Regions from separate parts of the Homo sapiens genome. Here region 1 is reported to be linked to region 2. Evidence: microRNA targets listed by miRTarBase, many of them from high-throughput screens and not tested one by one. Region 2 holds a microRNA gene; the other region holds the end of a gene's coding sequence.

Evidence for each region. Region 2 holds the annotated microRNA hsa-miR-8065 (UGUAGGAACAGUUGAAUUUUGGCU, at 1,663-1,686, shown strand). A microRNA usually pairs through its seed, bases 2 to 8, with sites in the 3' UTR of a target mRNA and lowers its output. Matches are read on the target gene's strand: a 7mer-m8 pairs with bases 2 to 8, a 7mer-A1 pairs with bases 2 to 7 and ends in A, and an 8mer does both.
Region 1: miRTarBase lists KHNYN as a target of hsa-miR-8065. Seed matches in the 3' UTR shown: 7mer-A1 at 232-238.

Annotation. Positions count from the first base shown.
Region 1 is chr14:24,436,697-24,439,696 of GRCh38, reverse strand. KHNYN (KH and NYN domain containing) reads right to left here. Exons shown (of 8, transcript NM_015299.3): 8 at 1-2,661. The coding sequence ends at 2,412. Among named protein-coding and RNA genes, the nearest start is that of SDR39U1, 4.6 kb to the left of the region's middle.
Region 2 is chr16:5,630,871-5,634,128 of GRCh38, forward strand. It overlaps MIR8065 (microRNA 8065), which reads left to right and starts at 1,597; the gene lies at 1,597-1,696. It also overlaps a transcript of RBFOX1 not described here.

The DNA.
Region 1 (3,000 bases), not on the chromosome of region 2:
TCCCCAAAGACGGGGTTTTGAAAGTTACAATGAGCAGTCTCTCTCATCACCGTTTCCCTTCTTGGTCCTTCAGTTGCCAAAAGAACTTGTCACAAGTTTGGGACATCAGGTTATGATAAAGATAGACACTAGAAGAGAGAATGATGATCCATTTCCAATGGGCCCTGTAGTCACCCTGGATGCTGTCAGAGTGCCATTAGGATGCCAGTAGAGGAAGAGGTAAGGCCCAGGTGTAGGATAGCCTTCAGTCTGTGTCACCAAATGGCAAGTGCATTACTAACCACACAGTGGTCCCAGTTTATCAGGCTGCAGCAGAACAAAGTCAACATCCCTGTCTATAAGAAGCTTAGGACTTGCCTCTCATCTGACTGGGGCCACTCAGTCAACCAGGGCCCTTAGCACAAAAGGGCAGAAGACACTTTTGGTCTACTGCACACCCACCATCACTGAAAGTGAAAATGGCAAGAAACCAATCAAGAAGTATAAACAACCCTATCAGGAAAAAAAAAAACTCCAAGGTTTTCATCTAGGACCCTTTTTACCTACCTAAAGCTGTGACATCTGCCATAACTTGACCAGACACAGTTCCCCCAGCCACCAGTTCAGGCCATACTAACCAATCTCTTCTCAGGGACCGCTGGGTTATCTCTTAATCATTGTCACCTCTTTGACCAGCCTGTCTCCAACACACCTGCCCCCAGCCTGGGTCAGTATGGTACAGTGGTGTAAATCACCAAAAAGGAAGGGGTGAGGACACAAGGACCCTCCCCATCATCATTACACTCGCCATGCAGTATTCAACTCCCTGTGCCACTCAGAGGGAGGCAGAAGTCAGGGCCTGGAAAAGATCTTGTCTAGAGACTCCCCACAGGCCCACACAGAACAGAACCCAGGGGCACCTGTCCTACTTCTTTATCTGGTCTTGGATTCCAGGAAGTTGACTGGCTCTGTATTGTTCCTGGAGGTATGACCAGCCTCAAAGGTGGATGTAACAGAAAAGCATACTTTAGGCTGCACTAAAGTAAGGAGTACTGATTAATACCGTCTACACAGGGAATGTGCTACCCTGGAGATAGTAAATTCCCTGGCACAGGAGGACTTCAAGCAGATCCAGGGCAATGACCTCTAGGAATCAGGGTGAAGAAAGCATGTCAGTAACAGCAGAGTTGGTCTGGTGGCCAGTCAAGTGCCTTCCAACTCTGGTTCTTTCATTTTCCAGATAATTGGTTCATCTAGAACCAACTGGTTCAACTTCCGTTAAGTCCTCCCATCCCCATACACACACACATAAAGCAGAAGTGTGCCTTGCTTTATGCAACATACGTCTTCCATAGAGAAAATGTTAGGGTCGGATCACATTAATATTGTCATTGCAGAGCATGGCTTCATCGATTGGTGAAAAATCGACGTGTTCATCTCAACACCAGGAAGTGCATCTAACCAGGGATTTGCCAACACATTTGTTAGTCTGTAAACAACACCTGAATACAACAGGAGAGCTGCCATTTATAGGAACCCTGAGAGTATTTTGATAATGCAGTCATCCCTAATTTACCTACTGTGTAAATGTAGATTTTGGAGGTTGCTCAAAAGGGATGCAGCCATTATAGGGCACGTTATAGTGAGAATGCAGTGTTAAAATCTAGGGTGTGGATCCTGGAGACAAAGGACCCACATCTCTCTGAAAGTGAGGTTTCGGTTAGAGAGCCTGTGCAGCCACAGGCAGACACACCTGAGACTTGGTCCAAGCACCTTTCCTCCAAGAGGCTTTCCTCTATGTTCTCATTTCTCCTCCCAACAGGTATTTTTACCCCTGATTTGTAGGCAGAAGTAAAGCCCAAGCAACTCAATCAAGGTCACAAAACAGGCATAGCTGAGACCAGAAGCCAAGTCTCCCTCTGCCTTCTTCACTAGCTCACTCCACCCTATCGTGGCCCAGTCCACATAACACTGTGCCAGGGCCTAGCATCTCCTTCCACGCTCCCAGGAGCTCAGCAAGGGAGCATCTTGTTCTCTGGCCATCCAGAGCAGCAGCCAGGGAGAGGAACAGCTTAACTTCCTGTCACTTCCTGCCCACCCTGCCCTCCACCCTAGCTCAGCTTGGAGGTGGAGCCAACAGTCTCAGTCTCCGGAACTAATCCCCTCTAGCAGCCCCCACTCCCTACAGAAACCCTGTGCTAAGGCAAAGTTGAGAAGTTAAGGCTGAGCAGAACCTCTTGAGAGCTGGCTGAGGTCCTGACTCGGTAAGATCAGTTCACTTTATGGACCTGTCCCAAAGTGGCTTCCCTGATCCAAAGCACCAACTCAGGGTGCCTCTGGATCAGAGTGAGCAGCAGAGGGACTCTCACAGAAAGGGCTGAGCTGGAGGCGGCTGGAGCTGACAGGGCGGCAGCCACTCAAGCAGGTGAGGCTCAAAAGTTAAGACTGAGCAGGGCCTCAGACAGTTGGTTGATGTCCCGGCAGTATGGCTCCCGCTGCAGGATGAAGTCCACTTTGTGATCCTGACCCCAAAACACCTCCAGCAGCTGCCGCCGGAGCCGCTCTGTTTCCCGGGTCTTCCGAATGCCACCACTACCTTTTTCCTCTTCTCTCCCCTGCTGCTGTTTACCATGTTCTGCAAAGCCCCTGGAAGGATGCTGAGCCTTAGAAGACCCCTGTGTCCTGGGAAGAAACAGACCAAAAAGAGCTGATGAGCATCCTGGGGGGGAAATTAGATCTTAGTGGGCACCCCTCTCGTAATTGTCCTGCCTATTCCTGGCTTTGGGGGAGAAATCCTGAAGTTCCTGAAGCTGACCACTGAGTGGCAGTATCAACCCACTTCTGAAGGGAAGATGGGCCGTTCTTTTAGAAACAGGGTGAACTCTGCCACTATTATGATCTAGTTCTAGTCCTAAATGAATCACTTATGTAATGGTCAGCAGAAGGCATGCTGAATACAACTGGCTGTCAGTATAAGCAACCATTTTCCAAATAACTCCATCAAACATGCTGATTAAGAGA
Region 2 (3,258 bases):
TGCTGATGTTTAATGACCAAATATGTTTTTTTTAGTTGGTTTCTGATGTTATTTTCTCCATCTATTCCAAAACAGCTGCAGAATGGCAACATTTGACATTTAAGAAAGGGAAAGTGGGAGTGGTGAAGTGATTCCCCTTGGAAGGGTCGCACTTGTATCTAGAGGTTGTCCACAACAGATGGCCAAACCAGTCCCCAAAACGTGACTGTTGGCACTCAGAGGTGCTGCATCTACATTTGAAACAATCTAAAGCAAAGCAAAGAAAACTCAACCGGTCATTGAGTATGTCGGAATTTGCTCTGATGAAGGTGATGAGGTTGATGATGATGATGTTGGTGGCTGATGTTACTGGTCAGGGTCTTAGAGGCTCTCTCCAATCCTCATGCACATTTAAAAGTCTCTCTTCGGGCAGGCGTGGTGGCTTACGCCTGTAATCCCAGCATTTTGGGAAGCCGAGGCAGGTGGATCACGAGGTCAGGAGTTCAAGACCAGCCTGGCCAATATGGCAAAACTCCATCTCTATTAAAAATACAAAAATTAGCCGGGTATGGTGGCGGGTGCTTGTAGTCCCAGCTACTCGGGAGGCTGAGGCAGGAGAATCTCTTGAACCAAGGAGGCGGAGGTTGCAGTGAGCCGAGATCGCACCACTGCACTCCAGCCTGGTGACAGACCGAGACTCCATATTTAAAAAAAAAAAAAAAGTGTCTCTTCTATGTATCCATTACATTTTGACTTCAGTTTTAGGTAATTTATTGCAGACTCCTTTGCCCTTCTGCATTCATGTTTCCCACCTCCTAGAACGGAAGCTACTTGATCATTGCCTTCCCCTACCCTCATTTTTTGTACTTAGTATTGAGTTTTGGCTCTTAGGAGGTGCTTACTGAGTATTTATTCAATGAAGTGTCCAGAGTCTGGTGAAAGGAAGTTGAGCATTGTCTAGATGAGCTTTTCTCTTACAAAGTCAAAATTTGGCCAAAGGCAGCTCCCATTGTAGGATCATTTTCTGGGATGGACACTGGGGTGTTCACTAGGGTCAGGTGAATGATAGAGTGGAGACAGTAGAAATGGCATCCCCAAGTAGGAAAGAAAGGTTAAGCCTCCACCTGTTTGCTCTCTATAAGCTTCCGTCTAAAGATCTCACAGGAGGATTGGATGTCTGAGCTTTCTTTTCCAGTCCTACTTAAGCTAGGAAGCCAAGGAGGGCACAGAGGTACCAGAGGAAGGGCATCTGTGTGTGCCCAGAAGAGGCCTCTTCACAAAGGACACAGGATGCAGGTAAGCTACTTCATATGGTACCTATCACATGTATGCATTCAGTATACTAAAAATAATTATTATTCTGTATTAGAGACGATGTCATGAGACAACTAGCCACAGTCTGATGAACGAGAGTAAGGATGAATATGGGAGTTACACCTGCTGGGTTCCCAACCCACATCAATCTCTGTGTCCCTTGGGCAAGCCCTTTTACCTCTTGTAGCTGTTTCCTGGTCAACGTTATTTGACCCCCTTAAGATGGAGATGCTAATAGCTACCCTGTATGTTGTGGTGAGAATCAAATTAAGCAGATGAAAAGTGCATAGCATAGTGACAGCTCAGTACATGAGAGCCATCATTTTTGTTGTTGTTGTATTTTTCAGCAAGGCAAGGGCTTTGATGTCTTGTAGGAACAGTTGAATTTTGGCTTCATGTAATTACACACAATATCAGCGGTGATTTATCTGGAAATAGCACTCACCTCCAGGCCCTGTCCACGAGCCACCTAGCCCAACTATGTTTATTTGTCTTTTGTTTTGGAGCCTATAAGGGCATATTGGGAAGGTTTAATACAGCCGCATCACTGTGATTTAGTGAGCACTTACTGTCCCGCACATGCTGCTGTGATAACACTTTACAAAGTGGTCATGAATGAGCCTTCCTTCAAACCTGTGAGGTAGGTACTCTTCCATATAAGCTGGGAGAACTGCAGCACACAGAATTTCCGTAACTTTCTCCACTGTGGCTAAGAAAACTGGGCTGGGAACACAACCCAGGTCACCTGATTCCTGGGCTTGCAATCTTAACAACTCCTTTTTTTTTTTTTTTTGAGGTGGAGTCTCACTCTGTCACCTGGGCTGGAATGCAGTGTTATGATCTCAGCTCACTGCATCCTCTACCTCCCAAGTTCAAGTGATTCTCCTGCCTCAGCCTCCTGAGTAGCTGGGACTGTAGGCACCAGTCACCATGCCCGGCTAATTTTTGTATTTTTAATAGAGACGGAATTTCGCCATATTGGCCAGGCTGGTCTCGAACTCCTGACCTCGTGATCCAGCTGCCTCGGCCTCCCAAAGTGCTGGGATTACAGGTCTGAGCCACCACGCCCAGCCAACAACTCTTTTACATCAGTGCAAGTTGGAACATTTTGAAGCTCCCACTCTTCTCCCTGGAACCACACACTTCTGGTTTCTTTTCTCATTCCAAAGCATAGGTGCTCTTTTTGTAAAAAAACTTTCAATAGTTTTAGGGTTACAGGTGGTTTTTCATTACATGGATGAGCTCTTTAGTGGTGATTTCTGAGATTTTGTTGCACTCATCACTGGAGCAACGACTCTCTACCCAATATGTAGTCTTTTAGAAAATATTCACAAACTGTGTATCCGACAAAAGACTGACATCCAGAATCTACAAGGAACTCAAATCAACAAGAATAAAAGAAATAATCCCATCAAAAAGTGGGTAAAGGGCTGGGTGTGGTGGCTCACGCCTGTAATCCCAGCACTTTGGGAGGTCGAGGTGGGTGGCTCACCTGAGGTGGGGAGTTTGAGGTCAGCCTGGCCAACATCGTGAAACTCCGTCTCTTCTAAAAATACAAAAATTAGCCGGGCGTCGTGGTGCATGCCTGTAATCGCAGCTGCTCAGGAGGCTGAGGCAGGAGAATGGCTAGAACCCAGGAGGCGGAGGCCACTGTCCTCCAGCCTGGGCGATAGAGTGAGACTCCGTCTTAAAAAAAAAAAAAAGTAGACAAAGGAAATACATAGACAGTTCTCAAAAGAAGATATACAGACACCCAACAAACATACGAAAAAATGCTCAACATCCCTAATTATCACGATGCCCATTTGAAGGCCAATTGTGAGCTGTTAGCAAGCCCACCTTGAGTGTAATGGTGTTTCCTCTACTGCCATCTAGAGGACACAGACTCAAATAAGCGTCATTAGTTGCAGTTTCTGAGGTCCAACTTCCAAATGATCCTTACCCTTTACCTTTTATAGCCACTGG